Homo sapiens: one gene and its partner. Each later gene encodes a partner of the first gene's protein in a complex. Each region holds a gene or a part of one and is shown in the gene's direction. Other genes may lie near its edges.

Region 1 (7,023 bases):
TTTTTTATCAGTTTGCTCAACATTTTAAAATGAATTAAAAGCAGATGTTGAAATTGCTGCCAACTGTTCACTTGTCATCTGTGAATGGGAATTAACTGGGTTTTGTTCATCATTCAATCAAATGTTAAGCTTCAGTAGTTTAAAGAGCCTGGGAATGCAGGTCCTGATGGGATTTTAAAACGACAAACAACTGAAGTAATTTTGATAAGTGTGAAACCATTTGTCCTTGTAAGATAAAAAGGGAAATTCTTGGGAAAGTTTAGAATTCTGAAACTCTCACACAATAGCTGCAGAAACAAAAATCAATATTTTGTTATTTAACAAGAACTCTTAAGCACTATCTATATGTTCTGCCCTGCATTTGGTGCACTGGAGGCTACAGGGGAACTTAAAAATAGTTGTCATTCTCAGAGTTAAAGAATATAAGATGCTGTAGTGCCCAGATGAGAGTGCCTGTTGATGGTCCTAAACTAGGTCAGAGGCGACAGAATGTAAGAAGGGCTGAGATGATATGAGCAGGAATCTCAGGGGAAAGTTTCACTGAACAATGAAGAATGTGTAGGATTTAATATTACTTCATGTGGCAGCCAGCCTCTGAGATGGCCCCCAGTGATTCTTGTCTTTGGGTATTCAAGTCTTTGTTGTGGTTCCTTCCCACATTGAATAAGGCTTACCAATAAGATATTGCAGAATTTACGACTTCTGAGGGTAGGTAATAAAAAAAATGTTGTAGCTTCAATCTTGGTCTCTGTTGAACTCTTACTCTGCGGGAAGCCAGCCACTATGTCAAGAGGATGTTCAAGCAGCCCATGGAGAGGCTCATTTGGGGAGTATCTGAGGCCTCCTGCTAACAGTCAACACCAACTCATCAGGCATGTGAGTGAGCCACCACGGAACTGGATCCTCCAGCCCCACTGAAGCCTTTAGATGACTGCATGACTGCAACCCTGGCCAACATCTTGCCTCTGACCTCAAGAGACCCTAAGCCAGAACATCTAGCTAAGCTGCTTCTAGATTCCTGATGCACAGAAATTATGAGTTAAGTGTTTATTGCTTTAAGACATTGAGTTTTGGGGTAATTTGTTGTGCAGCAGTAGATTAAAACATCTTACTAGGTCTTTGTCTTTATCTAAGAATGCACGAAAGTCAAGAAAAGGCTGCACGAATATGGAATAAATGATCAAGAGCTATGTTATTTCTCCATCTCTTTTTAACAAATGCTAAAATAATATTACAATGAAAACTGAATTAAATTCTACTCACATAACAACTATGACTATGCAGATGAGTTCATAATCCTTACCTGTCCCTGAACCCAACCAGCCATTTCTATATAGGTGAATAGCTTAATCCATTACAAAAGTACTACAAAAAATTCCCTAGTTCATTTTACAAATATTTATGGAGATTCTACTATGTGTCATAGGCATGGTACAAATTAAGTACATGTAATACAGTATAAATTACATAATTATATGGCTCAGAACACCAAATAATAAATGAAAAATCTTTTTATGTTCTCTATAATTTAATTTAAAACTAAGACATTTTAATTTTCTTGTTATAAGAAATACGCTTTGATTTTATCCAAGGATAATATGAAATAATACACCTTCCCATTTGGATGTGGGAACTACAATTAGATGCACAAATGCAAGCAGGGGACGCACTCCAAGATTTCATAATGAAATCTTCTCTAGTTCTTGAAAAGCATTTTTGTTTTGTTTTAAGCAGAGGTCCATTATTAGAATTTAACAAATTCTACTTGAGGGAGTGAGGCCCTGTCTCAGAAAAATAAAAATAAAATAATAATAAAGAAAAATGGTTTGGCCAACATGGCAAAACCCCGTCTCTACTAAAAATACAAAAATCAGCCGGCCGTGGTGGCACACGCCTGTGGTCCTGGCTACTTGGGAGGCTGAGACGGGAGAATCACTTGAACTTAGGAAGCAGAGGTTGCAGTGAACTGAGATCATGCCACTGTACTCCAGCCTGGGTGAGAGTGAGATTCTGTCTCAAAAAAAAAAAAAAAAAAAAAAAATCCGCTAGAAGACACTATCGCTAAACAATTTTGGTTGAAATCTTGTCCCCAATGGGTTATACATCACTAAGATATTGACCCTATCTAGAACTGGCTCCCTAATTTGTGAGGCCTAGTGCAAAATTAAAACCAGTGGCTCCTTGTTCCCAAATTATTAAGAATTTCAAGATGGCAACACCAGAGCATGAAATCAAGCACAGAGTTCTTCTAAGCATGTGGTCTCATGCTATTGCATAGACTACATGCCCATGAAGCTGGCTCTGGCTCCATTAAAGAACATAGAAGTCAGAACTTTCCACTTTATTTTGACAGAATAAAGAACTGTTTAAAAATGTCAAGTGACATATTTTTAATGGGAAAATATTTTACCAGAGACTATAAAGCAGTTGCTGATTTAATTATACTCAAAATGAATCATAATTGAGGACTAGAATCTTCTTAACCAGTGAGCAACTGCTTCTCATGTCAATGACTGAATAGGTTTTAAAACCATTTTCTGAAAAGTTTCTGAAAATCTACTGGCAACAATTGAAGGGACCCAGGGGAGGTCCTGAATATTAGAATGGTAATGTGACCTAGATTCACGTCTTTTATTCTTTTTGATAGAGGGCATCTACAGTCTCATTCTATGTTAAAAGAAATGTTCCCTAACAGAGAACTGAACATTACAGAGATCCGGGCCTTGGAAGTGGGTGCAGTACCATGCAGATCTGTATTATTTCCCTTTAGGGAAGAGAGTGAACATGTTTTTGGTTGTAAATGAGATAGCTGTACTGTTTTGTATCTATTTAAAACAAATAGTTTTTGAAACTATGAAACATTTTAGATACCTAAGTATAGACTCTATAAAGAACACTGGCCACCTATGTGGCCACCTTGGGGCCCTTAATAAATATTTAAAAATTCATGGAAACTCCTCCCTTTCCCTGAATGTAACTGCCATTCCGAGTTTTCTATATATCATTCTCCTGCATTTTAAACTCATATGGATCTATTTTAAATATATTGTCTTTTAAACACCAACTATAAATGATACCATACTTTACCTATCCGTCTGCAATCTGTTTTGCTCATTTAACAGCGTATTTTTCAGATGTATCCATATTGTTACATGCAGTTCTACTTCATCACTGTTGTTTTCAGGGCTTGCAAAAGCGTTTCTTTAGGTCCATCCTCCTGAGCGTGTGCTCACCCCAAGGCCCCGGCGGTGGCCAAGTGTCCGCCCATGCGGTGTAAAGGGGAAGTGGAACGCGTAGAGAAGGATTTTGGCAGCTCTGCTTGCCTGGAATTCCAGTCCTAGAATTCTAAATTCGGACTTGATCTTCCAGACTGTTAGGAAGATATATTTAAGGTAGGAGGCTAGAACGTATCTCCTTTAGTATATAGCTTCATTTACAACTTTTAAATATTCAGTCAAAAAGTATGTGGGCCTTCATTTACACTTTTGACGGGGCCTCACAAATAGGGGTGGTCTGCCCCTTTCCTTACGTCCCACTCTTTCTTCAAATTAAATTGCTACAGCAGGAAATTACTGAACTGTGGCTCTTCTCCTACGTCCGCCTTCCCTATGTCAATTCCCATTTCCCTTGCTTTCTCCAATAGTTAGGACTGTAAATTCTAACTTTGTTAATTTCGACGCCAAGCTGGAATGAAGACGCTAAGTGGACGCTAAAAAGACACGCTGTTTGTCACACAAGGCCTCCAACTGGGACGGCGTCCACCGCGCCCCGCCCCGCCCGCGGCACCGTGGCATCTTGGGACATGTAGTCTTTGGAGGGGCAGCTGCCTCCACCAAGTCTCCTCCCCCAAGACGCTGCCTTTCGGCCTCGGGACGCCGTGACGTTGCGTTCCTCCAGTCCCTTGCCACCTCCCTCTTTCTTCCCCTCTGGGGAAGCTCAGTGCTGGACTTCCGAAGACCTTTTACGACATTGAGTCTCGGAGTTGGTCTCAGCGCCGGATCCACTTTTCGGCAAAGTGACGTGGACGTCAACAGCAATGGCGGAAGGAGAAGATGTGCCGCCGCTGCCAACGTCGAGCGGCGACGGCTGGTGAGTGAAAGCCGGGGCTAATTTCCAATGCCCCTTTATTCTTCCTTCTCACCATCTTGCCGGTCCCCGAGGAGCCGTCTGGCGTCGGCATGGAACGGAGAGGCCGGTCCTAGGCGAAGTCCGGTGCCCTGCCCTACCCCTCTGCCAGCTGGGTGCCCCCTGCCTGCCTGGTTCTGCCCAAGGGACTGGGGCGGGACTCCCAAGGAGAGGGGTGTCATCCAGGTGCTGGGCCTCAGAACGGTCCTCCTGTGTCGTCTGTCAGTCTCCAAAGTGTGCTGGAGTGGGTGGCTTCAGGGCTGGGTTTGGCCGGAGTCCTGGCTGTGGGAGTTGGAGTAGGCTGAAGAAGGAAGTTTGTTGGATGCAGATCTGAGTCACTAAAATACAATGTGAAGAAAAGACGTTTTGAAATGACCACTGCGACCTTCGCCTGAGGGTTCAGAGGTTGACCCGAGGAGAATCCCTCCCACTTAGTTGGTATACTTTTTTTTATTCTGGCTGTTATCTCGTTTTGCATTCCAACAGTTTTCATCGTTCGTCTCCTTCACGCAAGTCATCTTTTCCCCTACTACCACATTTCTCACAGCTCGATTTCTGAGCTTTGGATGCAGTGTGGGACTTTGCTCTTACTGCACCCAAGCTGTTGCATGCTTACCTGATTTATACTCGGGATTGTGGGGGAAGACCGCCAATAATTTTTTGGTAAACTGCTCACCCAGTGTTAATCTTTGGGAAAGGCTTCTACTTTTGAAATAGTTGATCTCACGATACACTGTTAGGTTGTACAACATCATTTTTTAAAAAGGGACCTTTAGAGGCTTGTCTAAATTTTACAGTTGATCTAAGTGTATTGACCACATGTATTAGTTTTGGATTTGCTTGTTCGTTATATTGTATGTGTACAGCTCATGGGCACTTTAAAAATAATACAGGACATTGATAGACATCGACTTTAATCCCAGAGGAAAAAAATGGAAATCGTTGAAAGGGATAGATAATTAGTAATTAAGAAATTCAGCTCTCCATTAGCAGACATCAAACATTACCGTAGCGCTGGGCTCTCCAAGGTGTCAGAGGAAAACTTCATGGTGATCTAGATATAGTTTTTTTTTCTTCAACTTGCTTATGTTGGAGTTGGGAAGGTGTAACAAGGTAAAATTAATCTTATTCTTTGTGAGTGTGATTCAAAGTGTTACGAGAGGTTGGCGGTGGGGGCTGGGGCAGTTGGAGTCACTGGGGGAAAGCTTCATGAAAGCAGCAGTGTTTCAACTAGGCTTTGAAGAATAAGTAGGATTTAAGCCCCAGGGCTGTCTAATAGAAGCCACATATTGTAATTTAAAATTATGTAGTAGCAGCATTTAAAACTGAAAAGAAGGCTGGGCGCGGTGGCTCACGCCTGTAATCCCAGCACTTTGGGAGGCCGAGGCGGGCGGATCACTTGAAGTCAGGAGTTCCAGACCAGCCTGACCAACATGGTGAAACCCCGTCTCTACTAAGAATATAAAAATTAGCCGGGCGTGGTGGCGCGTGCCTGTAATCTCAGCTGCTTGGGAGGCTGAGGCAGGAGAATCGCTTGAACCCGGGAGGCAGAGGTTGCAGTGAGCCGAGATCGAGCCACTACTGTCCAGCCCGGCGGCAGTGTGAGGCTCGGTCTCAAAAAAAAAAAAAAAAAAAAAACACTAAAAAGAAACAGGTGAAATCAGTTTTAATAATCTATTTAACATATTTCAACATGTAATCATTGTTTAAAAAATTAGATAATTGTACATCTTTTTTGTGCCAAGTCTTCAAAATCCAATGTGCATTTTACAGCTACCTTATATTTCAATTTGGTCTAGCCACATTTCAGATATTAAATATCCACACATGGCTTGGAGCTAACATATTAGTGCAGAATCAGATTAAGAGATGGGAAAGGCCTCTGAATGGAGTAACTTTCATGCGCGTCCGTGTGAAGAGACCACCAAACAGACTTTGTGTGAGCAATAAAGCTTTTAATCACCTGGGTGCAGGCGGGCTGAGTCCGAAAAGAGAGTCAGCGAAGGGAGATAAGGGCGGGGCCGTTTTATAGGATTTGGGTAGATAAAGGAAAATTACAGTCGAAGGGGAGTTGTTCTCTGGCGGGCAGAGTGGGTGTCCCAAGGTGCTCAGTGGGGGAGCTTTTTGAGCCAGGATGAGCCAGGAAAAGGACTTTCACAAGGTAATGTCATCAGTTAAGGCAAGGACCGGCCATTTACACTTCTTTTCTGGTAGAATGTCATCAGTTAAGGCGGGGCAGGGCATATTCACTTCTTTTGTGATTCTTCAGTTACTTCAGGCCATCTGGGCGTATACGTGCAAGTCACAGGGGATGCGATGGCTTGGCTTGGGCTCAGAGGCCTGACAGTAACAGCATAAGCAAGGGCATAGACAAGACAACTAATTTGTTTTGAGAGTAAGAATGAGAACTACCTGGTTGGAGAGAAGTTGCAGAAAAATACGTCTTTTTGCTTCTGGTATCCTGCAAGAATGGCAAGAGAAAAAAGAAAAATAGATCTGGAAAAATAGTAAAAAAGTTTTTAACTAATTAAATGCACCTTTTAAGAATCAGTGACAGACATTACAACACTTTTCAGAAAGTGACCTAGCTGGTTATAGCCTGAAGTTTGCTGTTTTGGAACGGTGAATTGTGTCATAAACTGGCGGTAACCAGCTCATAGAGTGCCATGAGGGGAAATGTTTCCACAGTTAAGGTGCCTCTGGGGAGTTCTTAGGTTAGAGGGATTGTGAGAATCTCTGGTTCACATGGGCAGAGGACATGGAGTGAATGTTTACTAGAGACAGCATTTTTTCTCTTGTAGGATTGATGTATCTTTGGTGTGTCTTTGTATTTTTGCTGGTTTCATTTTCATGAATGGAGGAACCCTAACATGGTCGGTGATTTCTGTTTTCCCTCCA
Region 2 (7,038 bases), on another chromosome or scaffold:
TGCTGTCTGAACCGATTTCCAGTCTTTCCTACTTCCTTTTTCAGGCAGCAAGTTCCAGAAACTGGCTACTCACTGCATGAACTTGGCAGGCCCTTTTGCTTTTCTTATGTTTCACCTCTAAGGGCTTAAAAGGGAGTCTTCACGCTCTGTGATCAGAGGCCCTGCGTAGAGAGCACTATCTCCTCCACGCTCACCCCAGTGCTATTAGAAATGCAGGTTGCTGCCTCATCGTGGGTGCCCACGGCCACCTCATTTCCTTGTGCGTTTCACTTGCCTCTTTTGCTCTTTTGTGCAGTGCCGTTATCTTTTTCATGAAGTGTGGCTTCCACAATTGTCTGTGACGTACATTTTATTTACCTCGTGCATTCATTCCACTCGTTTCTTGTCGGATCACTCAGCTGGTTGTGATTGTGCGTTCAGGACTCTGAAGTGCCAGGTACTGGCCTAGGAGCAGGGGGTGTGGTTGGGGACAGTGTCCAGAGGCTTCTTTGAAGCTGACGCAGGGCCTCACATTGGCATCTCTGGAAATAGTGAACACCCAGCTCCAGAGTGGATTAGATGTTAGCCACCCCTTTATAGGGGAGGCCTGAGCAAATGTCCCTGAGTGAATATCACTTGCATCTCCCAGAGTAAAGGCATCTGACGGCCTCACTTCAGAGGCTTCCTGCAGTCTGTCCATGTTTGATTGTCATTCTCCTCCTCTAGCCTGAGTACCCTGGAGATGTCACTTTTCCTTCTCAGAAAACACTAAGTAAGGTGTTCCCTGAGGAGGACCCGAGCCCACCATTGGTTCTCTTACCCAGGGAAGTGTCTGGCCCTCTCCTTTGTTCTCTGTCTTTAATCTACTTCCTGTCTTATGACAAAGAAATCTCTGGGAGTTTTTAAACTCAAGAATTATTTTAAAAGTCACAAGATAACAAATGTCAAGCCCCCAAACCACACTGCCTGGAGGACTGCACATCTGGGAGTGCCTGGGCCGGGCCCCAGTGTCCATGTTGGTGAAATAGGGAGCGGCGCTCCTCTGAAGGATTGTTCTTGGGACTGGCATGGGCCAGGTCAGTAGCAGTGCTCAGTACAGTGCTCACAGAAGGCAGGGAGGGACGGATTGCTCCCCTCCTTTTTCTTCCCCTCAGAGTATGTATGTTAGTTGAGAAAAAAGGAAAATCAGTGAAACTTAACAACAGTATCAGGGTGATGTGATTCTCAAGTGTTTTTATCTCTATATTTTTTGTATCATTTATTTTTATTTTTTTGAGACAGAGTCTCACTCTGTTGCCCAGGCTAGAGTGCAGTGGCGCGATCTCGGCTCACTGCAACCTCTGCCTCCCCAGTTCAAGCGATTCTCCTGCCTCAGCCTCCTGAGTAGCTGGGACTACAGGTGCGTGCCACCATGCGTGGCTATTTTATTTATTTATTTATTTTTGTATTTTTTAGTAGAGACGGAGTTTTGACATGTTGCTCAGGCTGGTCTCGAACTCCTGAGCTCAAGTGATCCGCCTGCCTTGGCCTCCCAAGTGCTAGGATTACAGGCGTGAGCCACTGCGTCATCCTATGCCATTTTAAAAGTATTTATTTTGACCATTTACTAATTTCATAATTAGAAAAGGTAAGCATTATTTTAAAATTATTACGGGTTTAGAAAAATGTAGTGCTGACATCACTTTTTTCTTTTATCCACATGCTTATTCACTTCTCCAACAACTCGGATTTCTTAAGCCTAATTGTCTATTAGCGAAGTAGTCTGACTTCATCATACAGGCTCCCAGAGTTTCACGTGGAAGTGTGAGTTGCCAGTCTGTTGATTTTCAGTGTCCCTTCTGGGCTTTCCAAGTGTTCATTGCCATAGACAGTCCAGAATTATCGGTATTGTTCTCATTACCAATGCGTTACGGCTAAACTTAGTTGATTTTTTTAGATGGGGAGGAGGTGTAGCTGACTTTTCCAATCTCCACAGAGGCTTTGCTATTTCTGTAATCTTAGTCTACACTAAATCAGCCTTCAGGGAAAGGCAGGGTTTTTAAGAGTAGGAGGGCCATAGATTTGGAACAGCAAGATTTATAAGAGAGAATGTGTATGTTCTTTCCATAGATGGAGAACTTGTCCATACTGGCTGGTACTCTTTAAATGGACAAATGTCAACATTTGAAGTGGATCAAAGGCAAAAGATACCTTTAGTGAGACTGGCAGGAAAGCCATTGGGTGTGCTGTTTTGAACATCTGTTGGATTTTTTCTGCATTTCTCTCAGGAAGGATGGCTCTAGGTTAGGGTAGCGGACCCCAGTAGTTCTTGGAGAGAGGAACTACATATCAAAGAGGCAAGAATTCTTAATTCTCTTAAGTACAATTTTTATTTAAAAAATATGGATTTTTTTTTTTTTACTTCAGAAGCACAAATTTATTTATTTATTTATGTATTGAGATGGAGTCTCGCTCTGTCTTAATAAAAGGCTGGAGCACATTGGCACGATCTTGGCTCACTGCAACTTCTGCCTTCCGGGTTCAAGTGATTCTCCTGCCTCAGCTTCCCGAGTAGCTGGGATTACAGGTGCATGCCACCATGCCCGGCTAATTTTTGTATTTTCAGTAGAGACGGGGTTTCACCGTGCTGGCTAGGCTGGTCTTGAACTCCCGACCTCAGGCAATCCGCCTGCCTCAGCCTCCCAAAGTGCTGGGATTACCGGCGTGAGCCACCATGGCCAGCTGCACAAACCAACATCATATATTTGGAGGGGGCACCATGTTGAAATTCAGTAAGGGTAAGGAGAGAGAATTAGAAACCTGGCCATTTTTTAAGATCTGTATGAAATAGGATGGCAGCTTGAAAATTGATACATATGCTGGATCTTCAACAATAAGAAGACATGTTTTTAAATGGAAAGTGAGGTTTCTGAAATTAAAAGGGTGCTTATGTTGCACATAAAATTTGTTTATGTCCATATTTGTTCCCATTTCAAATAGTTGACGCTTATCTTCAACAATTGTTTTCCCTTCCCAAAACATACTGTCTTGTTTTTTAATAGTACATACTGTGATACACATTACAAATCCATACTGCTAAAAGAAATGACACATTTCTTCTCAATAGGGTGGTGTTTCTTTATTATAATGAACTATAGCTATAGACTGTATCATAAAAGAGACAAATTATTCGCTATTTAAAGTTTTCATTCCCAAAGAATCAGCTGTTCTATCTTACTGGCAAAACTCTGATACAATGTGTGGGAAAGCTAGTACCAGCTGAGCAGGCTGGCATCCATGCTGTTCATGTAGGAATCTCTAATTAGCAAGCTTCCTTAGGACCCTTAACAAAGAGTGTGTTCTCCCCACTTTTGATTTACATCTAATTTGAGGGGAACACATGCATAAAATCAAGTACTGCTTCAAAGAGTTGTATTCACTTCAACCGACTTTTCATATGTGGTTTATAATTTGTTGTTTTGGATAAAATGATACTAATCCCAATGCAGGTAAATTTAGATAGATACCATCTCTCTGTCTTCTTTAGTTTAATGTGTATTTGTAAACAGTAAAAACAGTACAAAATAAGATCATGAGCTTAAAAACTCTAAAATCACTATAAATAATTACTGATTGAAATGTGTAATAATAAAATATAGTGGATTCGATAATAAACTGGTGTAGTGGAAATTCTAGGACCCATGAAGAGGTCCTTTAGCAATTTTAGATTTTACTTTGTATAAACAGCTGGAGTTCAAGTTCTGTTCCAGTCCAGCAATACTGTAGACAGCACCTGATGTATGGCTGGCAGGTGCTGCGAGCTGGGCCTGTGGTTTGTCCCCCTGCTTTTTAGTCAGTGTGTCCTCCACAGAGTTGTGTACCTCTTGGTGACTTTGGAGCAGGAGTGTTGAGGAATAAACAAGTCTGCCTCTGAGTGCTTGGCACAGGCCCTCTCTGTGCCTGCTCTGTAGAGGGTGAGGTCTGCGCCTCTCTGTCCACGGATGGTCAGTAAGAGAGGATGATCTTTACTGACACTAACGTCACTCACTGGCGGCCTGTCCTATAGTGCCTGGTGTAGTTGGTGGGAAATGAATCAAACTACTGTGTTTTGTTGTTTTAATCTGATGGCTTGTCTTGATTCATTTTCTTAGCAAATTGCAGTTATAGTTTATGGGCCTGTGGAGTGATTGGCACCTTTGAGGGTGGAAGGGGTTTCTGGAGTCAGCCGACCCAGGTTTCAGTCTGTCACATAATGGCTCTGTGACCTTGGGCAAGCGACTTAACTTTTCTGAGTTTCAATTTCCATATTTATAGGTTAGAATAATAGTTTCTAACTCACCTAGTTTTTATGAGGATTAAAATAATGTCAAGAATGTAAAATTCCTATTGATGAACTCTTGAAACCAAACAGAAGGTAGTGGTGGTGGAGAATTACCACTTCACGGCCCGGGAGCCCCAGACAGTGCGGGTTTGGATGACACACCATTTGTTTAAGAAATGACACTGGCCCTGCAGCATCCGTGCCACGCTTGAGCACCGTTGGGCTTAATCACGGCTCCTGGACGTGCTGGGATTAGTGAATGGGGCCTAGTCCTTCCAGCGTGGTCATTGCCTAAGATGCGTTCCCTGAGTGGACACGTGCCCCAGAGCACACAGAAAGCCTGAAGCAGATGGTGGCAGAACCACTCCAGGGCATGCAGGGAGGTTGATGGTGAAGATACCAATTTGCTTTTAAGAATTTTACTGTGAACTCTTTAGGATTTAGGGCCTATTACTTGAAGTGGTCTTTTATTCTAAGTTTTTCTTTATATGATATTTTTCCCCCTTCATCTGTGGATTTTAAAATTTTGTCTTGTTCCTTTATTATTAGAAAAGCAAATAAGTATTTAATGAATGAAAAAATAAATTTAGTTAAATGCAAGGAAGAGGGAAGAAAAGCAATATGAATTTTTCACCCAACTCTACAGTGTGATTTAGAAAATTTCCAAAGTATTATCTATAAAGGGCTTTTATAGATTATTTTCCATTATATTTTGATCATCATTTGGATCTTTTGAAACTGGCATTTAAAAATTCTGAGCTCTGGAGGGCACCTCAAAATCTTTTCAACCCATTCACTGCCTGCAGGCAAGAAAACAGCTTAACCGTGCCAAACCCATGATTTCCCTCTGTTTTTTGTGTGTGTGTGTGTTTTTTTTTTTTTTTTTTTTTTGAGACAGAGTTTCGCTCTTGTTGCCCTGGCTGGAGTGCAATGGTACGATCATGGCTCACTGCGACCTTCGCCTCTTGGGTTCAAGGGATTCTCCTGCCTCAGCCTCCCGAGTAGCTGGGATTACAGGCATAAGCCACCATGCCCAGTTAATTTTTGTATTTTTAGTAGAGAACGGTTTTCACCATTTTGGCCAGGCTACTCTCGAACTCCTGACCTCAGATGATCTGCCCGCCTTGGCCTCCCAAAGTTCTGGGATTACAGGCGTGAGCCACCGCGCCCAGCCGATTTCCCTCCCATTCTTAAAAGCTTTCTACCGCAGTGTGTTATATAGTTAAAATAAACAGGAACCATCGATACCATTTCAAAATAAGGGGAAATGTTCCCTGTGGACATTTAACTGAAGAAAAGAAATGACAGTGTAAGATTGCATTGAGATCTTAAGGATTGCTTTTGCCAAATGGTAGATAATTTGCTAGCGGTTTTAGGCAGTTGTTTCACACATCTTAACACATGGTTAATGATTGTGTGACTGAGATAACTGGATCAGCCCTATTTCCAAAATAAGCTAAGTGTATTTAAGTAAACCTTGCTACTATTGAGCATTTTGTAGTTGTTTCATTTACTGCCTAGTTTTTTTTTTCACTTGCAACTGATCACAAGAATCATTGAGGTTCATGCCGTTCTATCACAGTACTAGTAGTAAGAGGTCTTTATTTTAAGGATCTTTTGTTGACTTTTTCATTACATTTCTATAGCCAGATCAAGTCAAATTTACGTTCTGAAGTATGTCCAAGGAAATTAAGAGCTGGTGCATGAAAAGATAGGAAAACAATCCAAATCCTAGCAGTTATCAAAAGCAAGTTTATAATACAGGCAAGTGCATTCACTCCTTTCTATATATTTTCAGGGAGCAACATTTAAGAGAGAGTAAACATTCACTCCTTTCTGTATCTTTTCAGGGAGTAACATTTAAGAGAGAGTAAGAGTATTTGTATCTAAATTGGATTAGAATAATTTTTTTCATGTCCCTTTACTTTCCTGTAGCTTGCTGATGACCGTATGGCACTGGTGTCAGGCATCAGCTTAGATCCAGAAGCAGCGATTGGTGTGACAAAACGGCCACCTCCTAAGTGGGTGGATGGAGTGGATGAAGTAAGTTCCATGTTAGTTTCATAGCATCTTGTTTTTTTAAGTAATTATGACAATGTATTTTAAGATATCTGTCATATAAACGAATTTGGCTACACTTGAATGTATATTTCTAGAAATACTTTAGCTTTAGGTTAAGTTGTCTATGTGTGTGTTAATGATTTTAGCTGTAGTTTTAACATTGGTAGTAACTACCTGAATTATAGGAAGAAATTGAAACCCCATGCAACAAGGAAGAATGTGATTTTCTGGTAATTTGAATTAAAAGCTGCTCACACATCAGCAAGCCAACAAGTTTGCTGAAGACCGAATTCTGTATGCTGAGTGTAGCTGATGGAGGCAGACCATAGCCTGCCTGGCATCAGTGGAGTTCTGTGACTTCATTTGCTTAGATTCAGTATGATGTTGGCCGGATTAAGCAGAAGATGAAAGAATTGGCCAGCCTTCATGACAAGCATTTAAACAGACCCACCCTGGATGACAGCAGCGAAGAGGAACATGCCATTGAGATAACTACCCAAGAGATCACTCAGGTGAGGAGTGCAAGTGAGTCCTGGGGAAACCAGCGAGCCTTCTCATGGCAATCTCAGAAACTAGAGTGTTACTCAGAATCAGTCTCCTGGAGTCATTTCCCAACCTGAAGTTCTCAGAGGGACCTCAAGAGGCCCTGAAGTCCTCCAGCTGTCAGCGTAGGTACCTGTGAGGCCTTGGAGGTATGG

The links. The genes of interacting proteins can lie anywhere in the genome.
Region 2: the proteins of TBC1D23 (region 1) and STX16 are in contact, whole or in part, in a crystal structure (PDB 8QQF), measured with the Homo sapiens proteins. Residues at the interface, in NP_001186127.1 of Homo sapiens: Leu638, Asn639, Ser640, Val641, Val642, Lys643, Ile644, Thr645, Ser646, Lys647, Lys648, Ser661, Ser662, Ala663, Ile666, Thr683, Lys687, Ile690, Met691; in NP_001001433.1 of Homo sapiens: Asp209, Asp210, Asn211, Thr212, Leu213, Tyr214, His215, Arg216, Phe218, Thr219, Glu220.

What each region holds. Positions count from the first base shown.
Region 1 is NC_000003.12:100,256,983-100,264,005, forward strand, and holds the start of TBC1D23 (TBC1 domain family member 23), read left to right. Parts: upstream 1-4,009; 5' UTR 4,010-4,036; coding exon 4,037-4,089; intron 4,090-7,023. UniProt on the Homo sapiens protein: Putative Rab GTPase-activating protein which plays a role in vesicular trafficking. Involved in endosome-to-Golgi trafficking.
Region 2 is NC_000020.11:58,661,276-58,668,313, forward strand, and holds part of STX16 (syntaxin-16), read left to right. Parts: intron 1-6,214; coding exon 6,215-6,322; intron 6,323-6,711; coding exon 6,712-6,852; intron 6,853-7,038. UniProt on the Homo sapiens protein: SNARE involved in vesicular transport from the late endosomes to the trans-Golgi network.